Homo sapiens: one gene and its partners. The protein of the gene in region 1 interacts with the protein of each later gene in a pairwise test. Each region holds a gene or a part of one and is shown in the gene's direction. Other genes may lie near its edges.

Region 1 (3,469 bases):
TTTCTGTTTTGGAACAACACATTTTTGTAATGCTTGTCATGATGATTTTCAAAGAATGACTAGCATTCCTAAGGAAGAACTACCACACTGTCCTGCAGGTATGCTTTTAATATTTTAAAATCACGATTATGATCTATATACCATAGTTTTATGTAAACATTATATGAAAGCTCTGTTTCAAGTGACAGAAACTCAATTCAAACTAGCCTAAAGAAGCAGGAGGAATTCCTTGATCCTTGTAAGCTTATGACTTTCTGGGTGAATTAGGAAGCAGGCTCATCATCATGAGTGAGAAGTTAGCTGTGACGGAGCAGATCTCATGGGGAGTGAGAATGAAGTCTACTAAGGATTGGTGAAAAGATGGCTGTTCAGCACTAAAAAGTCATATGAAGTTCAATATTACAGAACCATTTAAAAGGATTCTGTGATTTTTTTTTTTTTTTAACGAAGCCTGGAACCGTTGCCATAAAATGAACCAAGTGATTTAATCTAGAATGGCTGGGAATCAGTAGTGTAGTGAGCATCAGAAAGTCAAGGGAATTAAAGAAACCACTCAGAATACAGGAGAAATTATTGTCTATGGAAAGCAGGCTGAGGGGAAAGAAGTATGAAACCAAAAAGAAGCTGAAAATACTGGAAGAGGACAGGAGGCTAGTGGCAACGGTGAGGTGGAATACCAGGCTTCACGGAAGTGAGAGAAGTGGAAGGAGAGGTCCGTGCAACCATAGGAGAGAATTTTACATAAGATATATCTGAAATTAGTGAAAATACATGCACAAGTACATACAACACAATATACCGTGTTGTCAAAGCTAGAAAACACACACTGCCATCTGCTGCCTATCAGAGTGCAAGTGATAGACCTCTCCGGAAAACAGCTTAATAGTGCCTCTCAAAATTACCAGCGTATCAACCCTTCAGCACTCCCTCTTCAGGGATATAGCTACAAATGTGAGGACAGTAAAAAAGGGCAAATAAACAAGGTTATTAACTACAGCTTTGCTATGATAATAAAAATGTATAAACAATGCTAGTGTCCAGTAGGGTAGTGGCTAATATTACGCATCAGTTTAAAAAAAAAAAAGAGTGAGGATGGTGTTTCTGTGTGCTGATTTGGAAAGATCTTCAGGAGATAGCATCAGATGAAAAAAGTAAATTAGGCCAAGTGGTGTGACTGACACCTGTAATCCCAGCACTATGGGAGACCGAAGCAGGTGGATCACTTGAGGTCAGGAGTACGAGACCAGCCTGGCCAACATGGTGAAACCCCATCTCTACTAAATGTACAAAAATTAGCCAGGCATGGTGGCGGGTACCTGTAATCCGAGCTACTCACGAGGCTGAGGCCAGAGAATCACTTGAGCCTGAGAGGCGGAGGTTGCAGTGAGCCAAGATTGCGCCACTGCACTCCAGCCTGGGCGACAGAGCTGTTTCAAAAAAAAAAAGCAAATTGCAGAACAGAGTATGCAGTATGCTGCCTTTTGTAAGAGGGAAAATGAGACTATCTAGTCATATTTGTTTATATTTACATAAAGAAACCCCTGGAAAGATACTCAAGAAACTAATACTATTGATTAACTATTGGGAAAAGCAAGAAAAAGATGAGGGTAGAGACTAGGGAAAGTTGCTTCCAATTGTGTTATCATTTTTAACATTTTGATTTTAAACCATGTGAAACATATACTATCCATTTCAAAATAAAGATAAGTAGGGTTTTTTCAAGTATGACTACTTTTTACCATTTGCTCATGTCAAATAAAAATTGTTTTACTGTTTCTCCTCAAATACTGTTTTTTTTTAATAGAAGTAGCAGGCTTTGAAAGAAGCAAGGCCAGAATGATGTGAAGCCAGGTTATGGAGGATAATGGACAGAACAGAGATGTGAGCCATGCTTGGAGGGAGGGGGTGATGTGCTGGAGGTCAGCAAGTGAAGGGAGTGTGGAAAGGGCAGTATTCTAGATGACTCTAGATGACTTGAGCTTGGAGGAAGGGCAATTATTGAATGAAAGTTGTAGGTTGTGGTCTGGAAAGAAATAGGAGCCAAGAGAAAAATCAGTCACACGTTGTAGCCATATGACCTGGAGGAGCTTGGGAGATAACCAGCCTCCAGTTGAGAAAGATTTAAGGCAAGCAGTATCTTCAGGGGAAATCTAGATTTTACTTAAAGTTTCCTCTATGTTAAAAAACAGAAATAAGAATGCTAAAAATAAGGAAGTTAACAATGAAACACTTTAGAGAACTCAGTGGTGGGTAGTAGCTGAGAGAGGAGGGTCAGGTTTCCTCACAGGATCAGGGCAGCCAACACAAAGGAATCACAGGAGGGAGGCGGGGGAGGAGCCAGAGTTGGCAGAAGGAAGGAATGACCTCGGTCCTGGGCATTTTCACACATATTTGCTCCATTTTTACAATCTGCGAGTAGATGGTATTATCCCTATGTTATCAAATGGAAAATTGAGGGCTAGGGAGGTTAATGAACTGGCCTAAGAACATACACTGAGATTGAGGTATACTCTCCCAGCCTCACACATCCCTCTAACTCATCCATTCATTTAGAGAACTGGAATAGAATAAAGGAGATCCCACAGGGATGTGAGTAGGGAAGATGGCCATATACAGTTTACTTAGAAGGACAGAAGAAGCAATTCTCTAACCACTCTCAACCCTGTTAATTCTAATATTTTTAGATAATCAGTCTTCATCCATTCAAGCTGCTATAACAAAATACTGTAAACTGGGTAGCTTATAAACAGTGGAAATTTATTCTCACAGTTCTGGAGACCAGGAAGTCTAAGATCTAGGAATTAGCAGTCGAGGTGTCTGGTGAGGACCCACTCTCAGCCTCATAGGTGGCACTTTCTTGCTGTCGTGGAAGGGCAGGGGGCCTCTCCTGGGTCTCATTGATAGGAAGAGCACTAATCCCATTCATGGATTCCACCCCATGACCTCATCACCTCCCACAGCTCCACCTCCTAACACCATAACATTGGTGTTAATGTTGTAGTCTCAGCAGTGCACCAAGATATAACAGTCTCTCATTGTCTGAGATAATGCCAGGAGTTCTTTGTCCTACCTCCAAGAAGATTAAGGAGCACAGATACAAAGGTGAGGTTAGAGCGAAAGTTTAATAAGCAAAAGAAGAAAGCTCTCTGCCAGCAGAGAGGGGGGCCCAAACAGGATGCTCCCGTGAGGCTGGGGCCCAGGGTTTTTATGGACTGGAAAGGGGAAGGAATGTGCTTAGTCTGTGGGCTGTCTTGGCCCGCAGCGTGACTCAGCTTGGCCCGGGACCCTGGCCCAGGAACCCACTGGAGCCCACTGTGCCTATGCCCACAAAAGGAGAGAGCCCCCTGACTATACAAAGGACAAAGGCATTTCTATCCCAGGTCTTGTCCTTTATCTGATTGAAGGTTTTTCTGTCTGTGCAGCCGTGGGCATGTCTTTAGGCACAATGCCCTGTGCTAGTTCCCTCATC
Region 2 (3,500 bases), on another chromosome or scaffold:
TTATCAAAGTATACCCTCTCCCACTCTTGGGATATTCATTGTAAGTTTTGGGGGTTTTTTTCTCCTTTTTAATTATTTATTTTGTTCTCTGCATTGCTTCCTTGAGTCTCTTTTCTATTTGTTTGGTTTGTGCATGAGGATTTCCTCAGATGCAGGCGATCCTTAACTGTCTGTTCATATTTAAGAGTAAAGCATTAAAGTTTATTATTCGGAATCTCTGAAACCTGGGCAGAGCTTTTTGGCTTCTTTAAATATAATTATGCTGTGAACTGACCTCTTTGTTAGAGTAGCCTTGGATGTCAGAATTTGTATTTGTTTGCTTTGTTTTCTATATATCTATTTGTTTGTGCTGCTATAGTAAAATACCACAGACTAGGTAATCTTAAAAGAACAGAAATTTATTTCTCACAGTTCTGGAGGTTGTAAAGTCCAAGAACAAGAAGGTGGCAGTTTCTGTTGTCTGGAGAGGGCTGCTGTCTGCTTCCAAGATGGTGCCTTGATGCTGAATTCTTCTGAGGGAATTCACATGGCAGAAGGTGGAAAGGCAAAAGGGACAGACTCCCTCCATCATGCCCTTTTAGAGGGACGCCTAATCCCATCCACGAGGGCAGAGCCTGCATGACTCAGTCACCTCCCAAAGGCCATTCCTTCCAATACTGTTGCATTGGGGATTAAGTGTTCAACATACGGATTTTGGGAGACACATGCAGAAGACCATAGCAACTTTGAAATCTAATTTTGGGGGTGGGAGGGCAGACACCATTCAGTTTCTTCCAGAAAAGGCTCCTCTGCTTTCCTGCCTAGGAAATTATAGAATGGGATGTTAGCTTTCTACAAATGAGGTGGGAGAAAGGGAGAGGTTTCAGAGATTAACATAGAGCCTTTCCCTTGTACCTCATTCCAGCCTTCTTTGCCTGGTATCCTCTATTCTGGAGCTTCTGTGGTTCAATATTTCCAAAGAATAAAATTTCTTTTCTCTCACGAGAGGAGGTGGGTGGTAGAGGTGGTTAGTCACTTGGCTGTGTGGGATAATGGAGGAGGCCCAAGTGGTTCTGCTCCTTCTCTTTTTCCCACCTTGCGTGGTAACTGCCAGAGAGCTGATCCTCACAGGAATTCTGCGGCCTAATACAATTAGCTTCATCTTCACCTTTATTCACTCTGGGCATTTGGGTGATAACTTCTCCATCTCCTTACTGTCTTGGAAAAATTTATGAAAATATGCACACATTAGTGCTCCTTTTCTCTTTTTTCTTAGGAGTTAATATTTATTTTATTCCTCAACTGTCTCTTAGAGGGGTTGAGAAGAGATAAACTAATGTGTTCAATCTGCCATTTTTAACTGTTTCTAGCATGCATTTTTTCTAATGAAAGTATTATAAATGTTGATTAGATGCTTAATAGTACTATTAGTCCTGTTCCTCATGTATATTGGTATGGGTTAAATAGGTTTCTGTGGCCAACCTGAAAACCTAACTGTATCTATGATTTTCCCTTAGAACTAGAGGTATAATCAAGCCTTTCCGAATTGATTATCTGGAGGAATTTTAACAGACTAGAGCAAAAACATTTTCTCTCTCTCCATTTTCCAAATCACATAGAAAATTACTACAAATACTATATCATCATTGTTGAAATAAAAAGCTCTAATAATTGTAACAGAAACTTGAATTTTAGTAGAAAGGTTTATTTGTAAAGTTAAAGCTATACAAATTAAAATCAGAAGTAAAATTGAATTCTTCAGCCAATATCTCAAATCTCTTTTTTTTTTTTTAGCAACTGTTTTGAAAGCAATTTTCTAATTAAATTTAAACCCAGTGATAGTGGTAGCTTTGGGAAAATAGTAATAGCCACGGGAATCATTTGTTTAACTGTATTTTTTGTTGTTGTTGCTTTCTTTTTCTTACCATGGACACAACAGAATCTTCTGAAATATTGGACTGAATAAACTAGACCTAGCTAGATAGACCAATAAAACAATCTTCCAAGTCATGAATGAGTAAAAATAGTTATGCAAAGCACTTGTGTGCGAAAATGCAGCTCAGAATATGTATAGTACACAAAGTGTTTGAAAGTAAATGCTGCACCAACTTGGTGTTGGAATTGCAGAGACCACTGCAGTGGGGAGCTCCAATTTCCAGCCTTTGGCAAGGGCATATTCTTCCCGAGGATCACCCTGTTGTGCTGGGGCAGCCTTCCATGAGCACTTGCACCCCGGTGACCCTGATTGCCCAGTCTCAAGGGATCTGAGAAAATTAGGAAAACCAGGAACGGTTGTTGTAATCTTTTGTATGGCTGGAACGAGGTAAGGGCAATGAAATGCAGTTATTCCATTATTTTCCTTCCTTTTTATTTTTCTTTCTCTTTTATTTCTTCTTCTTTATTATTATTAACCACTCCCCCTCACTCCCCCTACTCCTTGCTTTTGACAGAATATTGACTAGGAACCAGAAGCCCATTTCTGCTTAGCCTTAAGGGCAGCTGTTTACACAGCAGCAGTGTTACATAGGTTTACTGTGTCATATGTCTGTGTAACACTGGATTTGGATCTTGTATTTAGCTGCCAGAAGTGACTGTGATGAAGTAGGAGAGATAAACTGATAGATTGGCTGCCAGAAAGATGTTGGGAATCAATCAGATAAACAGGGTAGAGAAATAGCTTGCTGTTTTCTAGTGATAATAAAACCAGCGGCTTCTGGTCCCTGCATTCTTAAACATAATTGCTGTAGTAATAATGTCCAAAATAAGCAAATGAAAAAACATCATGGGAGGTTTTCTAATTGCAATTGAGATATCCTTTTCCCTTTTGCAATAAAGATTCATCTTTTGGAAGTGAATATTTTTTATAAATTTGTTTTACTTCTTCCAGTGCCTACTTACATAAACATATGAAATTAGAAAGAGATCTGCTTTCAGAGGAATTTATTTCTCTTTCTTCATTTGAACCACTGAAGCCCACAGGCTTCAGCTATTTGATTTGATGAAATATCTCTATTGCCACCATGCCTCACCTACAAAATCATTGCTAATTTTTATGAAGAAACAAGTTTTAAGGCCAAACCTGGATTATTGACAGATGATTAGCAGAACTAGTTTATCTTAGCGTCTTCTCTTAAATTTCTCTCAGAAGATTTTTGGAATTTTAATCTCTGTTTCTCTTTCTCTGCATATAGCACTTATAGTTCTATTATCGTAATTCAGGGTTTTTCTCCCTTAGTGTTTAACTTTTAAAACCATTGCTTCTCTTCGCCCAAGGACTTTAAGATTCAGTGCAGATTCTTAAGTCTGTATGAAAGGTACAGATGTAGATTTCAACTGGGTGCAGAGGAGTCAGGCTTAAAATGACAGTAGGAGAGTCATTTAGAATAACTCCCATGGAGTTAATTGTATTGGATGAGAGACTAATCCTCTGTGGTATATTTGCAGTATGCAAATGACTTTCTTTAGATTCCCTCTTAAAATTTGTGTGGCTATGAATGTGTTGGTATCATGTGTGGCTAAAG
Region 3 (3,500 bases), on another chromosome or scaffold:
TGGATGCCTTTTTTCCTCTCTTACCTGATTACTCATCTTCCATCTAAAAGGTGGAAAGGCTTTTTGTTTTTCTGCATTCAGTATGATACTAGCTGTGAGTCTGTCATATATGGCTTTTATTATGTTGAGCTATATTCCTTCTATACCAAGTTTTTTTGAGGGTTTTTAATCATGAAGGGATGTTGAACTTTATCAAATGCATTTTCAGCAGTAATTGAAATGATTAAATAGTTTTTGTCCTTTATTCTGTTGATGTGATGTAGCATATTGATTGATTTGCATATGTTGAACTATCTTTGCATTCCTGGGATAAATCCCACTTGGTCATGATAAATGATCTTTTTAATGTGTTGTTGAATTTGGTTTGCTAGTATTTTGTTGAGGATTTTTGCATCAATATTCATGAGATATATTGGCCTGTAGTTTTCTTTTTTTGATATGTCTTTGTCTGGTTTTGGTATCAGGTAATACTGGCCTCGTAGAATGAGTTTGGAAGTATTCCCTTCTCCTCTATTTTTTGGAACATTTTGGGTAAGATTGGTATTAGTTCTTCTTTAAATGTTTGGTAGAATTCAGCAGGAAAGCCATCAGGTACTGGGCTTTTCTTTACCAGGAGACTTTTTATTATGGTTTGGATCTTGTTACTTGTTATTGGACTGTTCAGGTTTTGGATTTCTTCGTGGTTCAATCTTGGTAGGTTGTATTTGTCTAGGAATTTATCCATTTCTTCTTGATTTTCCAATTTACTAGCATGTAGTTGCTCATAGTAGCCACGAATGATCCTTTGAATTTATGCAGTATCAATTGTAATGTCACCTTTTTAATCTCCAATTTTATTTGAGTCTTCTTTTTCTTAGTCTGGCTAAATGTCAGTTTTATCTTTTCAAAGAAACCAACTTTTTGTTATGTTGATCTTTTGTATTGTTTTCTTCATGTCAGATTCATTTATTTCTGCTCTGATCCTTATAATTTCTTGTAGTATTTTTATAGTTTTGGGTCTTATGTTTAAGTCTTTAATGTATTTTGAGTTGATTTTTGTGTATGGTGAGAGGGAGGGGTCTGGTTTCATTCTTCTACATGTGGCTCTCCAATCTTGCCAGAACCATTTATTGAAGAGGATATCCCTTCCCCAGTGAAAGTTCTTTGTCACTTTTGTTAAAGATCAGTTGGCTGTAAACAAGTGGCTTCGTTCCTGGGTTCTCTATTCTGTTCCATTGGCCATGTGTCTTATTTTTATAACAATCCCCTGCTGTTTTGCTTACTATAGCCTTGTAATATATTTTGAAGTTAGGTAATGTGATGCCTCCAGCTTTGTTCTTTTTGTTTAAGATTGCTTTGGCTATTTGCATTGAACCTATAGATTGCTTTGGGCAATATGGTTATTTTAACTATATTATTCTGATCCATGAGCATGGGATGTTCTTTTGTGTCTTCAGTCTCTTTCATCAGTGTTTTGTAGTTTTTTGTGTAAATAAAATTCTTATATAATTCTAAGATTTTTGGAAAAAACTCCCAAATTTTGCCTAGGCTTACTGAGCTGCTTGAGCAAAGCATCTCTGAATAGAGCCAAGCTGATGGTTTGGGCCTTCTGACTCTACAGACCCATGTTTTCCCTGCCACTGATAGCTGGTGCAATCTTTTAGCCTCTCATTTATGTTGGGAACCAAACATTATGTTGGGAACCAAAACCAGCCATTTTCAGATGTCTTCAGCTGAGAATAGCATTAGCAGCTGCATGCTTCTTCCTCGTAGGCCTTACTGTGACAGTAATGAATTTGACATAACAAGAAGTGGGGTATATATGAAGGTGAGAGTCAGCAGTGGAATCCTGTAGACTTCAAGGAAAACATACAAAGCCTTGGTTTGGGGGCTTGAGCATTCTTAAATATGCTTTTGCTTGAAGCAATGTATTAGGATTAGTTATAAAACTAGTTCCATCAGTTATTTGGATACTTGACATTTTTGCTTTGTTGTGAGAACTGCCTGAATTTTTCATACTTTTTCTCTTTTTAGATATGTGATTCTGTTGGACTGGCAAAACAGATAGCTTTGCATGCTGAACTGGTAAGAATCCAAGATGTGGCTGGGCACAGTGGTTCACACCTGTAATCGCAGCACATTGGGAGGCCGAGGCGGGCAGATGACTTGAGGTCAGGAGTTCGAGACTAACCTGGCCAACATGGTGAAACCCCATTTCTACTAAAAATACAAAAATTAGTTGGGTGTGGTGTCGTGCACCTGTAATCCCAGCTACTGAGGAGGTCTGAGGCACGAGAATGACTTGAATCCGGGAGGCGGAGGTTGCAATGAGCCGAGATCACACCACTGCACTCCAGCCTGGGCAACAGAGCGAGACTGTATCTCAAAAAAAAAAAAGGAATCCAAGATGCTTGATTTTCCAAGAATGTTAACTAAAATAGTATATTAGCTCTTTCATATTAGCAAGTAAATAAAATGATTTTGCTAAGCAAGGTTAACAGTGATACTATTACCAACATAGCATTTAGAATTTGGATAATTGTTTACCATTGAATATAAACTGTTGATGTGCTTTCTTATGTATAAATGCAAAAAAATATTGAAAGGTTACCATGTGATATTAACTGAAATGTCTAAAATTTAAAGTTATTTCATATTTAATTCATTAGTTTTATTCATCTGTTCTTTAGGATCGTAGGGCATCAGAAAAACAAAAAGAAATAGAGAGAGTAAAAGAGAAGCAACAGAAAGAACTCAATAAACAAAAACAGATTGAAAAGGTATACAGTCCTAATGTCTGGATCTTTATGTGTTGTTTGTGAAGACTTAATTCAGCACTATGACTTTCAGATTTGAATTTCCAAATGAAGGGCTGTTTCTGCTTGTTCAGCCACTTCATAAACAGATGATTCATACCATAGCAGAAAAGGGTCACATCTGTTTTTTGATATGATGTTTACATTATAGTTACGTTGACATGTAATATGACTGTTTCAAAAATATACCAGAACTTTAATATTTCAGAGGAGGTTGTCTCTGTCAAAGCAGTTGAGAGGCTGTGTAGACTTAACTGCCATTGCTGAAAGCCATTTTGCCTTCTATGGGGGGGAAATAAATAAATATATATGTTATATGAAATATATAATGAAATGTATATTTTTAATATTGCCAGGAGTGTCAAATCATTGTCCATCCAACAGAATAATTTTAAAAGACAAATTTCAGAGCAAAACTTGAAGAATGCATTAAATGATCCATGAAATTGTAAGAGCGTGTTATGGGTTGTAGATTGACAGTAGGAATAGAAAAGAGGAGACAGCTGGGATGCTTAGAACAGATCAATAAGCATTGGCTGTGGGCTGGCTCTCTGGACAAAGAAGAGGGAAGTGGCAAAGATGACATTGAAGTGAGGCTTTCTTGATAGGCGAGGCTGAGGGAAGGTGACACCTGATTTAGCAAAGATGAATTGGACAGGGATGGAGAAAAGGGCTGGAGAGGGGAAGGGAAAGGAGTGTGGGGGT
Region 4 (3,500 bases), on another chromosome or scaffold:
GTAGGGTTGAGCTGAAGAGAGAAGGAAGGTTATGGCTAGAGGAGCGTGTGTCTGCTGGGCCCTTGTGTTAGTTTGGTCTAGTGCAGGGAAGGGGCTGGGAGATGATGTAGGAGAGAAGCATTGTGGGCAGGAGGAGAGGATGTGTTTGGGTATGGCTGCTCCCAAGCTGTGGTTAGGACAGCCATAACAGGAGCCTTGCCTCTGCTTTCCACTGGAGAAGACAAGGAGCCTGGGCTGCAGAGGGAACCTGACACCCTATGTGGAGGCCCACAGCCAGCTGGGACAGATGTCCCTGAACCCTTGTGTCTTCTACAGGAAGCTGCGGATCTGTCCTCCCTGAAAAGCATGTTGGACCAGCTGGGCGTCCCCCTCTATGCAGTGGTAAAGGAGCACATCAGGACTGAAGTGAAGGATTTCCAGCCTTATTTCAAAGGAGAAATCTTCCTGGATGAAAAGGTGTGTGTGATGGGAGGCTTTTAGACACAGACTGCTGGGGATTGTGCTCAGCTGTGTGATAGTCAGGTGGCCCAGGTATGTCTGGCCTGGAGCTGGAGGCTGGCCTTCCCTTCAGCTGTCCTGAACTTGCAAGGCCTTTTTCAGCCCCCTGAGCAGAGCATGATCAGACATTTTAAAGCTGTCCTCTCAGTTACAGACAGTCCCTGACCATCTGGTGGTTTGACTTAACGATCTTTCAGCTTTGTGATGGTGCAGAAGTGATAAGCATTTAGTTTCTACATTTCTTCAAGAACCCATACAGCCATTCTGTTTTTCACATTCAATATTCAATAGACTACATAAGTTATTCAACACTTTATTTTAAAATAGGATTGTGTTACATGATTTTATTCAACTGTAGGTTAATAAGAGTGTTCTGAGCATGTTTAAGGTAGTGTAGGCTAAGCTATGAGGTTAGGTGTATTAAATGCATTTCAATATAAGATATTTCAACTTATGATGGGTTTGTAGGGACATAATCCCATTGTAAGTTGAGGAGCATCTGTATTACTTAAGTCTTTCCTGCCATGTGAACTGGGAGAGTAGGAAATAGCTGAAACTCCAACAGGTTCCTCCACTGTTGGGGGCCTAGTACAAAGCCCCACACCCTGTCCCTTAATTCATTTATTTCTTTCTCTTCTGCTCCCACCTCTGCAGAAGGTAGCACTGTTACCATCCTGTCAGGTGGAAGACTAGTGAGAAGGTAGAGTCAGAATTGAAAGCTACGGATGTCACCCTAGGTCAGGCCTACCTTGAGGTCTGAAACTGGACCCAGCAGGGTTCTGTTTTCTTGGCAGTTGAGAGTGGACCTGGATTGGCTGGGCATGGTGGCTCATGCCTGTAATCTCAGCACTTTGGGAGGCCGAGGTGGGCAGATCATTTGTGGTCAGGAGTTCAAGACCAGCTTGGCCAACGTGGTGAAACCTGTCTCTACTAAAAATTCAAAAATTAGCCAGGCATGGTGGCAGGCACTTGTAATCCTAGCTACTTGGGAGGCTGAGGCCAGAGAATTGCTTGAACCTAGGAGGTGGAGATTGTAGTCAGCTGAGATCGCGCCGTTGTACTCTAGCCTGACTGACAGAGCAAGACTCCATCTCAAAAAAAAAAAAAAAAAAAGAGTGGACCTGAATGTGGGCAGTGTGTGTGTGTTGGGTGGGAGAGAAGACTGGAACCAGCAGCCTTTTGAGTCTTTGCCTGAGAACCAATGCCCCGTCAGGAGCGTTTCCTCCTTGAGGAAGGCAGGCATGTAGAGTACTCATATGGGATCTGTCTTTCTCACTCCATAGAAAAAGTTCTATGGTCCACAAAGGCGGAAGATGATGTTTATGGGATTTATCCGTCTGGGAGTGTGGTACAACTTCTTCCGAGCCTGGAACGGAGGCTTCTCTGGAAACCTGGAAGGAGAAGGCTTCATCCTTGGGGGAGTTTTCGTGGTGGGATCAGGAAAGCAGGTGAGTTCTTGGTGTTTACTTGTGGTCTGTAGGTGTCTGTGTCTGTGAGTGTGAGACTCCAACCAGAAGCTGGAGTGGGGGTTGACTTTCCCTGTTTTGGGTCTCCTAGCCTTCCTTCTAGCAAGCCAGGGAACATGAAGAAGGGAAGGGAAGGCAGTTGTTGTTTATCACACATCATTCTCTGCTAGTACCTCATACTTGAATCTACTCACTCATCACAGTGACATCATGAGACAGTTTGATCATTTTGCAGACAAGGAACTTAGAACTGAAAAGGGATGAGCAGCTGCACAAGGAGCACAGCTCATCGGTGGCTCTGCTAGGCCTGAACTCAGGTTTGCTGACTTTAAGTTCAAGGAGCACAGCTCATGGGTGGCACTGCTGGGGCCTGAACCCAGGTTTGCTGACTTTAAGTTTTGTTTTCTGTGCTTGAACAAAAGCGTAGTTTTATTCTGTTTTTGAATTTACTCTCTTGCAGTGTTCCAGGCCACCATGGATGGATGATAGAAAAAAAAATAAGAGGAGAAAATAAGGAATAGAACCAGGCGTAATTAGGGGAAGTGGCAAGGAGGTTGCGGGGAGACGATGCTTTTTTCTGTGGGGATCTTGGTGTCAGGGCTGGCCTAGGAAAGGTATCTGACTCCTCTGCAAACAGGCTATTATTATAGGTCCTGGCTGTGAGGCTCCACAAGCAGCATGGAGCCCTAGGGGAAGGTGTGGAAAGGAGGAATGGGGTCTCTATAGGCCCAAGAGCCAGGTAGGCAGTTGTTTGTGTCAGAGTCTAGGCAGCCTTGAGCCATGGTGGTTCCCCTGCCCTGGAGGGCAGTGTCAGCAGAGGCCAGGAGGATGTGTAGCAGGGATGGAGCAAAGTGGATGAGGGGGCTGGGCGCGGTGGCTCACACCTGTAACGCCAGCACTTTGGGAGGCCAAGGCGGGCGGATCACTTGAGGCCAGGAGTTCCAGACCAGACCAGACTGGCCAACATGGCAAAATCCCATCTCTACTAAAGAAAAGCTTAAAAAATTAGCCGGGTGTAGTGGTGCGCACCCATAGTCCCAGCTACTTGGGAGGCTGAGGCAGGAGATTTGCTTGAACCCAGGAGGCAGAGGCTGCAGTGAGCTGAGATTGTGCCACTGAACTCCAGCCTAGGGGACAGGGCAAGATTCCATCTCAAAAAAGCAAGTGGATGAGGGAAGGGTATGGGAGAAGGACCTGGAAACTGGTGGCCTGACTTCTAGGCCTGTCTCTGTCAATTTTGGACATGACATTAACGTGTAGAAAGTGTTTTCTTTCTGTAGAAAGATGGGGTTTATCTGCATTGTTGGATCTCACTATTAATGTTGATAATTACATACTCTTCCCAATTTGGGAGGAATAAAAGGGAATAGAAATCCTTCAAGTTTAAGCTTTATTTCTTTTTTTTCAGATGGAATCTCACTGTGTTGCCCAGGCTGGAGTGCAGTGGTGCGATCTCGGCTCACTGCAAGCTCCACCTCCTGGGTTCACGCCATTCTCCTGCCTCAGCCTCCTGAGTAGCTGAGACTACAGGCACCC
Region 5 (3,500 bases), on another chromosome or scaffold:
TTTCACCATGTTGGCCAGGCTGGTCTTGAACTCCTGACCTCAGGTGATCCACCCCCTCGGCCTCTCAAAGTGCTGGGATTACAGGCGTGAGCCACTGTGCCCGGCCATAGCTTCTTAAAAGGATACGTTAAGGACCTTAAAAGGATATGGCCTCTTAAAAGGATATGTTTACACATTCTTGCAGCAAATAAGAAGCCATGTGAGGTTTTGAGCAAGAGAAAGATGGTTATTAGGAAAGCTAATCTGGCTCTGGTAGGAAGGATATACAGAGGAGACACCGAATCCAGGGCATCAGTGAGGAAGCTGTTGCTGTCGTCCAGGTTTAGAGCAGTGGCGGCGGGACTGGAATAGATGTGCCCAAGAGACATTTAGTGGAAACGAACCAAGATTTTCCAACCCCATGTCAAAAAGTGGGAAATAGAGAAGTCAAAAATGACTCTCAGGTAGTTTGTATGACCATTGTCAGAGAAGAGAATGATAGAATACTTGTCAGCAATTTGAAATGTCTTCTGCCAGTTGCCACATGTTACCCTGCAATAAGAAAAGCCACTGCCCTGAGAATGGATACTACCCAGTGGCCTCCTCATCTGCACACCACGAAGCTTCTCACTGGTGTTGTAAGTGGAAACCAGAGTAGCTGCCTATCTGCTTGATTATATTTTTTCTTAAAAATGTATAACTATCAGAACACAGAACAAACAGCTCCTAACCGCTTTAGTGTAGTGATCACACAATTTAGAATAAGACTTAGAAGACTTTCTTTTATTTTTTTCCAGAGACAGTGCCTCATTCTGTTGCCCAGGCTGCAGTGCAGTGACATGATCATAGCTCACTGTAACCTCGAAGTCCTGAACTCAAGCAATCCTCCCACCTCAGCCTCCCAAGTGGCTAAAACTATAGGCATGCACCACCACACCAGTTCATTTTTTAAATTTTTTGTAGAGTTGGGGCTGTATTTCCCAGGCTGTTTTGAACTCCTGGCCTCAAGTGGTCCTCCCCACTGGGCCTACCAAAGTGCTAGGATTATAGGTGTGAGCCACCACACCCAGCCTCATTCATCTTTTATGGTTTGCTGTCTCTGTTCAATCAAAACCCAGCCTCCTCCCATCTCTGTGCTGACAGACCTGGAAGGAGAGGAGTATGGGGTATACAGCAGAGTAGAAAATGTCTCCAGGTGATTCTAGAGCAATCCATTGTCTCCTCCCAGCCCAAACACATGTGTACTGAGCACAGTGCACATCACTTATTAACTTACTCTGCACCTCCCTAGTAACAAGTCCATTGGTGAGACTTACACAGAGCCAACCCAGGTGACTTGGCTTTGTGCCAGGATGCCAAAATTTAAAGGGTGCAAGAAAGTATTAATACCGATTTTAAAAGATTATGTGACTGTAAATTTTGTTAGATTAACACGTTGACAAACCCAGCATTCCTTCCACTGTCTAGAAACAACTGAGCTTAGCACCTAGTTAACAAGAATAATTAGTTAAAACGGGAAGCTAGCAGATGGTGTACATTGTTAGTAACACCCCTCTCTGTGCCAAATCCAGAGCACAAAGTTGACCAAGGGCCCACATACTGCAACTTGCCCAAGGCATCAAAATTGCCAGTTCCGGGCAAATGCAAAGTCTAGTTTCAGGGTGGCTTTGTACTGAAAACCCTTGTTGGCAGATTCTGCTTGGCCATTCATTACTCTAGCACACGCCTCACTATCTACTTATAACTTATTAAGGAGGTGAGATGTTGCCTTTCTTCGCTTTCTCAATTTAAATTTCAGTTTCTGCCTTGAATCTTTCATGCCTCCAGGTCAAAAGAGAGAGACAGAGACAGGGAAAATGACATCATAACCAAATATGGAATTGCTTTAAATTCAGGCTGGTATCTTCTCCCATCATGGCTCTCCTGGGCAGCTGGTTTACTAATGACCCCAACTCACTTTCAGAGGTCTCTTATGAATTAGCTCTGTGCTACAAAGTGGGAGACTGACCTCACTTCTTCCACTACTGACTAGCTTTGTGCCCTGAAAAAATCACTTCACCCCTCCCAAACACAGAATAAGCAGGCCTCCTGTTCTTAGCTAGCCCCAGTGTGCCACTACTGAAGTATAAGATCTTGAGAAAATTCTCTGAACCTGTTTCATCATCTCCACCTTAAGGACACTGGAATAGATGATCTCAAAGGCCCCTCCAGGGTAACTTTCTTCAGCTCTATTTAAGCCAGTTTTTCCATTCAGGTAAGTGTGGACAGATTGACTTTGAGATAATGGTAACTTATTCAGGGAGAACTGGACAGTAAGCACTTGGAGAAATGTGGGTGGAACTCAGTGTGAAAGGAAGAGGAGGGGTCTGGAAATAGATTTTGGGGTGAGACTTGAAATCATGAGAATGAAGGAGCTTTCCAAAGGGAAAGTGTAAAGAAAAGAGCGTCAGAGACAGCCTTGGAAGAATAGGAGGTGGGAAGAAAAGACTGCAAAAGAAATAGGGCCAACTTCCTGGTGGCTTGTGCCTATAACACTTTAGGATACCAAGGCAGGTGGATGGCTTGAGCCCAGGAGTTCCAGACCAGCCTGGGCAACATGGCAAGACCCTGTCTCTACAAAAAATACAAAAATTGCCCGGGTGTGGTGGCACGCACTTCTACTCTCAACTACTTGGGGGGCTGAGCCAAGAGGATGGCTTGAACCCAGTAGGTCAAGGCTGCAGTGAGCTGAGAACATGCCACTGTGCTCCAGTCTGGATGACAGAGCAAGACTCCATCTAAAAAAGAAAGAAGCCAACCTTAAATGGTTAGCGGCAGATCTTAGGGTAGTTTTCAAAAAAGATGTTTTAAGAAATAGAAGTTATTTTGACAATAGTTCTTAAGAATGAAGCTTTTGTTGTCATTGTTGTTGTTGTTTTTAATATAAAGATAAGGTCTCGCTGCATGGCCCAGGCTTCTCTCAAATTCCTCAGCTCAAGTGAGCCTCCCACCTTGGCCTCCCAAAGTGCTATGATTACAGGCATGAGCCACAGCTCCTTGCCCAGAAGGAAGTTTTTATCAACATGGGTAAATGCACCTCCCTTACTTACTGCAGCCCTGGTCCAGACCTTACCCCTCTCTCTAGGCTGTGAAGCTTCATGGAGGTATCGATATCCTAGTCTCCAATGCTGCTGTCAACCCTTTCTTTGGAAGCCTAATGGATGTCACCGAGGAGGTGTGGGACAAGGTGAGAGGGGATTAAAGAAGCGCGGAAGGGGGCCTCGGGACACATTCAGCACAAACTCCATCTGCTTTTAGAATGCATTTCTCAAGGGCAGTGTAAATGTGAGGACTCTTTGCCACGTGCCACACACCTGGAGCACACCTTGCAAAGGGCAGGTGGGGGTGGCTCTTTCTCTGCCCTTCTCATTCGTTTCTGCTGCTCCTAGTTCTCTCTGCTTCTATCTGCTCTTCATTAGCCACTGCTCCCCTCCCCAGGCTTCTTCCCTGGCATGCTCTTCTGCCTTGTTGATTTCCAACAG
Region 6 (2,787 bases), on another chromosome or scaffold:
TTCAGGCAGGAATCTGTGAGAGGTGAGAGGCCGGCGTCCCAAAGCTTGCCAGGGAGACGTGGAGGAGGTCCCTAGGCAACATGTTTCCTTCAGGGCTGCAGGGGTGGGAGGGTAGAAGAAAGTCGTGAGGGGCAGTTGGGCTAATTAAAAGGAGATTAAGGAATCCCAGGTGAGGCCGAAGGTGGGGGAAAGAGGGGATGGGGTTGAGTCATCACCCCACTATTACCATGACAACTGACAAATAAATCCTCCCAGATTGGGGGTTGCCGCCCCGTCGTGCCCAGGCAGGACCATTGTGGGACTGAAGAGCCCCAAGAACCCATCAGTCATCTCCCCTATCCTACCTCCACGCCCCTACTCCAACTTGAATGAGCAATGAGGGGCTGGGAACAGCTAAGCCTGCCTCTGTCTTCATTTTGACCTCTCCTCTCCCTCACATGAAATGAGGGAGTAGAGCTGGGCGTTCTGGGTCCCTGGGCTCCCCTCAGCACCTCCCTGACCCAGCTAAGAACAGCTGTGTTCACAGCCAAGTAAAACAAGGACCTTGAGAAATTATGTCAGGCCCATCCCAGGCAGAATTGGCTTCTGAACTCACCCGCTTCCCCTGAATATCTGGGGTTGGCACCTAACTTCTGCATCCTCCCTGTCCCCATTAGGCCCCCTGAGAAAGTCATCAAGTTTCCTCTCAGCTAGTCTTGCTTCTCCTTTCCCCTGTGTTTGGGACCCTGGGCGGACCTTTCCCAGCAGGAAAGGCTGCAGGGTTTTTCAGCGGGCGAGGATGCATCTAGAGCCCCCTGGTGTGCCGCTCCCCTAGCTGTGCTGCTTTCCCCGGCCTCCCAGAAAGTGTGTGGGGGAAGACAGCGTGGGCATTCAGCAAGGGGTGCTCTCCCCTTTGCCTCCCACCCCATCCTGCTCTTCCATGCTGGCCTAGAACTTTGGGGCCACATTGTATCTCTAGGATTCTTTCCCTTTCAGCCAGGAGTTTTTGTCAGACCTGGGAAAGTGGGACCCAGACTGCCTTGGGCCCAGGTTTCCAGGGTGGGTGTCAGCCTGTCCCCTGACCCCCATCTGGCTCTTCCCCCACAGCTGCTGGAGTACTTAGGGAAGGGCAAAAGCATCGTGGATGTGGGGCTGGCCCAGGCCCGGCACCCACTCAGCACCCGCAGCCACTACTTCGAGGTGGAGATCGTGGACCCTGGAGAGAAATGCTACATCGCCCTGGGGCTGGCACGGAAGGTGGGCACAAAGGCTGAGCTTTTTTGCTCATGGAGCTGCTCAGGTCTGGGGCTGTTGGGGCAGCACCAGGAAGCTCTTAGGAGAAACCAGGGGAGCCCAGGCTTTGGAGGGAGGGTGCTAAGCTGAGATGGAACACAGTTGTATGTGTCTGCTGTGTAAGAGTACACACCCCATGTGACCAAGGACCTGAGACAGGTCATGACTGCACCACACACTAAGGCCTGGGGGGAGGGGGTGGGACATGCCATGGCTCTGGCCTTAAAAGCTTAACTAACACTTTCCTCACCCTCCCTGGTTCCCCTGAAGCCCCAGTGCCTGCAGGGTATGAGTGTGCAGGGTTGGCACTCTCTGGGCTGTGGTCTGTCCCAGAGGTTCAGATGCTACTCGCCACTCTCTCCTGTCTTGTTTATGCATGGGACCATAGATTTTCTTTTCTCTTCTTGGTGCAGGACTATCCCAAGAACAGGCACCCTGGCTGGAGCAGAGGGTCTGTGGCTTATCATGCAGGTGAATAGCGGGCTGCCTGGGAAAGGTGGGATGGTGGGAGATGTGGAGGCATAGGGACATCCACTTTCCCCTCTCCTGGCCCCTCACAAATGGCCTTGCTGTTTGCCCTGCTGCTGGCTGACCTCCCCTTCCCAAATCGCTAGTGCTTCCTCCTCATCTGTGTTTTCCTCCCAGCTCTGGAAACCAGGGGAGCAGGACAGGAGAGGGAGATCTGGGCCCAGATGGGACATTCCAGGCCTCTGAGCTGGTCCCCCCGTGCCCTTCCTGCAGACCCTCATTTCCTCATTTTCTTTTTTCTTTTGCTGCTTGGTTTCCTTGGCTTTCTTTAGAAGAAAACTGAGCCTAGAGTTCCTCGACCCACCTCCCCCTGCCTGCCCTCCCTGGGTGTTCATTCCTTCCCTAGGGCCCCCTCCTCTGACTCATTTCCTAAGGGTTCTCCCTTACCCTTACCTTGAGCAGATGGATACTACGTCTCTTTATTTTATTTGGTGCCCCCTTCCCATATATCTCGCTCCAATTTTTTTTTTTTTTTTTTTTTGAGATGGAGTCTCACTCTGTCACCTAGACTGGAGTGCAGTGGCATGATCTTGGCTCACTGCAACCTCTGCCTCCCAGGCTCAAGTGATCCTCCCACCTCAGCCTCCTGAGTAGCTGGGACTACAGACGGGCGCCACCACGCCCAGCTAATTTTTGTATTTTTAGTAGAGATGTTTCGCCATGCTGGCCATGCTGGTCTCAAACTCCTGACTTCAGGTGATCCACCCTCCTTGGCCTCCCAAAGTCCTGGGATTCCAGGCGTGAGCCACCGCGCCCGGCCTCTCTCTCCATCTTTGTTTCCGCCCTGACCCTTCCCTTCCTCTGAGGGGTGGGAAGTGTTCAGCTTCATGAGCCACTCTGGGGGTGTGGTGTCAGCCCTCCTTCCTCAAGTGTTTGTCCTTTCCCCTCCCTCCAACAGACGATGGGAAGATCTTCCATGGCAGTGGTGTGGGGGACCCCTTTGGGCCACGCTGTTACAAAGGGGACATCATGGGCTGTGGAATCATG
Region 7 (3,500 bases), on another chromosome or scaffold:
TCAAGTGATCCACCTGCCTTGGCCTCCCAAAGTGCTGGGATTGTAGATGTGAGCCACTGCGTCCAGCCTACTTGCTTAATTTTTAAACATTCTAAAGATTGTTTGTTTGTTTTTTGAGATAGGGTCCTGCTCTGTCTCCCAGACTGGAATGCAGTGGTGTGATCATGGCTCACTGCAGCCTCTACCTCCTGAGCTCAGGCCATCCTCCCAATTAGCTGAGATCACAAGCAAGCACCACCAGCTAGTTTTGTAGGGACGGGGTTTCGCCATGTTGCCAAGGCTGGTCTGGAACTCCTGGGCTCAAGTGATCCACCCACCTTGGCCTCCCAAAGTGCTGGGATTATAGGCATGAGCCACAGTGCCCGGCCTATTCTGGAATTTTTAGTTAAATCAGGAACACATGAAAAAGAAGCATAAATATTGAAATTAGCATTATTCATGAAGAATGAGAACTAATAAGGAACTTAAATTAGGCACAGGCAAAATGTAAATTAAATATACAAAAGTCAATAGTTCTGGCCGGGCACGATGGCTCATGCCTGTAATCCCAGCACTTTGGGAGGCCAAGGCAGGCGGATCGCCTGAGGTCAGGGGTTCGAGACCAGCCTGGCCAACCAACATGGTGAAACCCCATCTCTACTAAAAATACAAAAATTAGCCGGGCATGGTGGCGTGCACCTGTAATCCCAGCTACTCAGGAGGCTGAGGTGGGAGAACCCGGGAGGCAGAGGTTGCAGTGAGCCGAGATCACGCTACTGCACTCCAGCTTGGGCGACAGAGCGAGACTCCATCTTAAAAAAAAAAAAAATTTAATAGTCCTAAAGCCTAATCCATTGATTATGTAATGAGGAGAAAAGATGATTACAGTAATGCAAAATAGAAATTGTATACAAAATATATAATAAGAAATAAGTTGGTCATACTAAGAAATATGACCAACTTCTATGATAAATAATGTAAGACAGGGACATAAAAGTTGCATGTAATGGAAAAAACATATCTTATTGCTAGATAGAAGAACAAGAACAGTACCAGCACTTAGGGAGGCAAAGCCAGGATGATCACTTGAGCCCACGAGTTTGAGACCAGCCTGAGCAACGTAGTGAAACTTCATCTCTACCAAAAAATTTTAAAAATAAGCAGAGTATGATGGTGGACACCTGTGGTCCTAGCTACTCAAGAGGCTGAGACAGGAGGATCACTTGAGCCCAGGAGGCCGAGGCTGCAGTGAGCCCTAACTGCACTACCTCACTCCAGCCTGGGCGACAGAACCAAGACCCTGTCCCCCCCCAAAAAAAAAAGATGTTGGGAAGACTTTACTCCTCATAGTTAACAAATTTATTGCAAATTAATTAAAAATCAATGCAAATAGAATAGTAGGAGAACTTAGTAAAACAGTTTATCTTTAAAATAAACATGGAAGTGTGGCTGGACATATTTGAAAAATAAAAGTAATGGGTTTACTGACATGATAATAAAATGTAGCAATGCAGGAAAAAAGAAAGAGATGAATAGAAAGCAATAGGCAGGCAGAAACAGATCCGAGTATAAATAAGAATTTATCCTGGGTGCAGTGGTTCATGCCTGAAACCCTAACATTTTGCGAGTTCAAGATGGAAGCCAGGGATTTGAGACTAGCCTGGGCAACATACCAGGACCCTGTCTCTAAAAAAATTAAAAATTAGTTGGGCGTGATGTGTGCGCCTATCAGCTTGAGAGGCTGAAGCTAGAGGATTGCTTGAGCCCAGGAGGTTAAGGTGGCAGCAAGCTGTGATTGCGGCCCTGCACACTAGCCTAGGCAACAGAGCAAGAATTCATCTTAAAAGAATTTAGTAGATGATAAAGGTATTATTTTAAATTAGTGGAGAGAAGGCTGTCTGTTCCAATTAATAATGTTGCCTGATCATTTGGAGAAAGTCACTCTAGATTCTTTCCCTCATACTGAGCACCAAAAAATATATAAATTTTAAATAGATTAAAATGTTAAAAATTTTGAAGTATGTGTTTATTAAAAGAAAGAGGTGTATTTACATAAAGTTATGACAAATGACAAGTCCTAAGAGTTTGCATTTAAGTTTTATCAACTAAAATTGCTGAATTTCACAAAATTAAAATTCCTAGAATTTTAAGTGTGATAAGATTGTGAAGATAGCTCAAGGGAGTGTGTCTATAATATGCAGAAATCACTTCTGGATTTATTCCTAATAATGTATCCAGTATCACAGTATCACCTGTATTTCCCTGTTTATAACAAAACTGGCATCATGATGATTAGTAGGCCTTAATAGTGAAAAGGCTTTTTAAGTACACAACAAATGTTTCTGTACTTGCTCCGATTGCCCCATTGCTTGTACTTCTGTAGTACTTGTGAGCCATAGGATCTTTTCTCAAAAGCCTTGATAAAGAAGTTTTATAAACTTATAAGATGATTTAATGTAGTACCATAAAATTAACTGTAGCAGTAGGCTTTTTCAGGAAGACATGTGAAATAAAAAAAATTAGCAAGGTGTGGTAGCGCACATCTATAGTCCTAGCTACTCAAGAGGCTGAGGCAGGAAGATCATTGGGTCCCAGGAGTTAGAAGTTGCAGCGAGCTGTGATTGCGCCACTGCACTCCAGCCAGAGCAACAGAACAAGACCCTATCCTGTCCCTAAAAAACAAAAAACAAAATGTGTTTTATAAGTGATTATAAAATGTTTTTTTCATAGGCCAAAACTTACATAAACCATGATTTCCCATTATAATCCAGTGGAAAAATTGTAATGCTTCTATTAGTGGTAACTTAATTTTGAAATGTTAAGTAGATTGTGCCTGTGTCGGTTTCTGGGTTTTGATAAATGATCATTTATTTGGCTAACTTTGCCATTAATGGCTGAAATGGTATTGCACATTTGTAAGTGCATACTTTAGATAATCATAAATTGGGGAAATATTACTAATAAATTATCCCTGAATCATCTAGGTACATAATAATGCATTGTCAGCACTCACCAGTTGTTTGACACCTGCAAATATGCACAGATGGACAGTAACATTTGCAGCATATTTGGGGGATTTTTTTACGTGAAATGAGCATTTTTTTTAAGCAAAACATTATATTTTGGAATAATTATGAGATGTGAGTGCCTAAGCAGAGATGTACAGCAAACATTATCAGGACAGAAAGCATGATGGGAGCACCCGATGTTACATTCTTCAGTTCATGCTGTGACCAGGCGACCTCATAAAAGGAAAAATATAATGTATAAGTACAAACCCCATTTTTTGTTTTGGCTCTTTTATATTTGTATTTTTTGAGACAGAGTCTAGTTTTGTCACCCAGGCTGGATGCAGTGGACCGATCTCGGCTCACTACAACCTCTGCCTCCCAGGCTCAAGCAATCCACCCACTTCAGCCCCCTGAGTAGCTGGGGTTACAGGCATGTGCCACCACACCTGGCTAATTTTTGTATTTTTTTTGTAGAGACAGGCTTTCGCCATGTTGTTCAGGCTGGTCTCG

What was found.
Region 2: the proteins of MYCBP2 (region 1) and AATF interact in a two-hybrid assay, tested with the Homo sapiens proteins (one large-scale study listed by BioGRID and IntAct).
Region 3: the proteins of MYCBP2 (region 1) and APPL1 interact in a two-hybrid assay, tested with the Homo sapiens proteins (one large-scale study listed by BioGRID and IntAct).
Region 4: the proteins of MYCBP2 (region 1) and PRXL2A interact in a two-hybrid assay, tested with the Homo sapiens proteins (one large-scale study listed by BioGRID and IntAct).
Region 5: the proteins of MYCBP2 (region 1) and DHRS4L2 interact in a two-hybrid assay, tested with the Homo sapiens proteins (one large-scale study listed by BioGRID and IntAct).
Region 6: the proteins of MYCBP2 (region 1) and SPRYD3 interact in a two-hybrid assay, tested with the Homo sapiens proteins (one large-scale study listed by BioGRID and IntAct).
Region 7: the proteins of MYCBP2 (region 1) and LSM14A interact in a two-hybrid assay, tested with the Homo sapiens proteins (one large-scale study listed by BioGRID and IntAct).

The regions. Positions count from the first base shown.
Region 1 is NC_000013.11:77,047,626-77,051,094, reverse strand, and holds part of MYCBP2 (E3 ubiquitin-protein ligase MYCBP2), read left to right. Parts: coding exon 1-98; intron 99-3,469. UniProt on the Homo sapiens protein: Atypical E3 ubiquitin-protein ligase which specifically mediates ubiquitination of threonine and serine residues on target proteins, instead of ubiquitinating lysine residues.
Region 2 is NC_000017.11:37,014,954-37,018,453, forward strand, and holds part of AATF (protein AATF), read left to right. Parts: intron 1-3,500. UniProt on the Homo sapiens protein: Part of the small subunit (SSU) processome, first precursor of the small eukaryotic ribosomal subunit.
Region 3 is NC_000003.12:57,265,729-57,269,228, forward strand, and holds part of APPL1 (DCC-interacting protein 13-alpha), read left to right. Parts: intron 1-2,013; coding exon 2,014-2,064; intron 2,065-2,613; exon of another isoform or gene 2,614-2,669; coding exon 2,670-2,759; exon of another isoform or gene 2,760-3,500. UniProt on the Homo sapiens protein: Multifunctional adapter protein that binds to various membrane receptors, nuclear factors and signaling proteins to regulate many processes, such as cell proliferation, immune response, endosomal trafficking and cell metabolism.
Region 4 is NC_000010.11:80,425,551-80,429,050, forward strand, and holds part of PRXL2A (peroxiredoxin-like 2A isoform 1 precursor), read left to right. Parts: intron 1-315; coding exon 316-456; intron 457-1,781; coding exon 1,782-1,946; intron 1,947-3,500. UniProt on the Homo sapiens protein: Involved in redox regulation of the cell. Acts as an antioxidant. Inhibits TNFSF11-induced NFKB1 and JUN activation and osteoclast differentiation. May affect bone resorption and help to maintain bone mass.
Region 5 is NC_000014.9:23,991,929-23,995,428, forward strand, and holds part of DHRS4L2 (dehydrogenase/reductase SDR family member 4-like 2 isoform 1 precursor), read left to right. Parts: intron 1-3,103; coding exon 3,104-3,205; intron 3,206-3,500.
Region 6 is NC_000012.12:53,066,604-53,069,390, reverse strand, and holds part of SPRYD3 (SPRY domain-containing protein 3), read left to right. Parts: intron 1-1,086; coding exon 1,087-1,236; intron 1,237-1,685; coding exon 1,686-1,743; intron 1,744-2,698; coding exon 2,699-2,787.
Region 7 is NC_000019.10:34,210,504-34,214,003, forward strand, and holds part of LSM14A (protein LSM14 homolog A), read left to right. Parts: intron 1-3,500. UniProt on the Homo sapiens protein: Essential for formation of P-bodies, cytoplasmic structures that provide storage sites for translationally inactive mRNAs and protect them from degradation. Acts as a repressor of mRNA translation. May play a role in mitotic spindle assembly.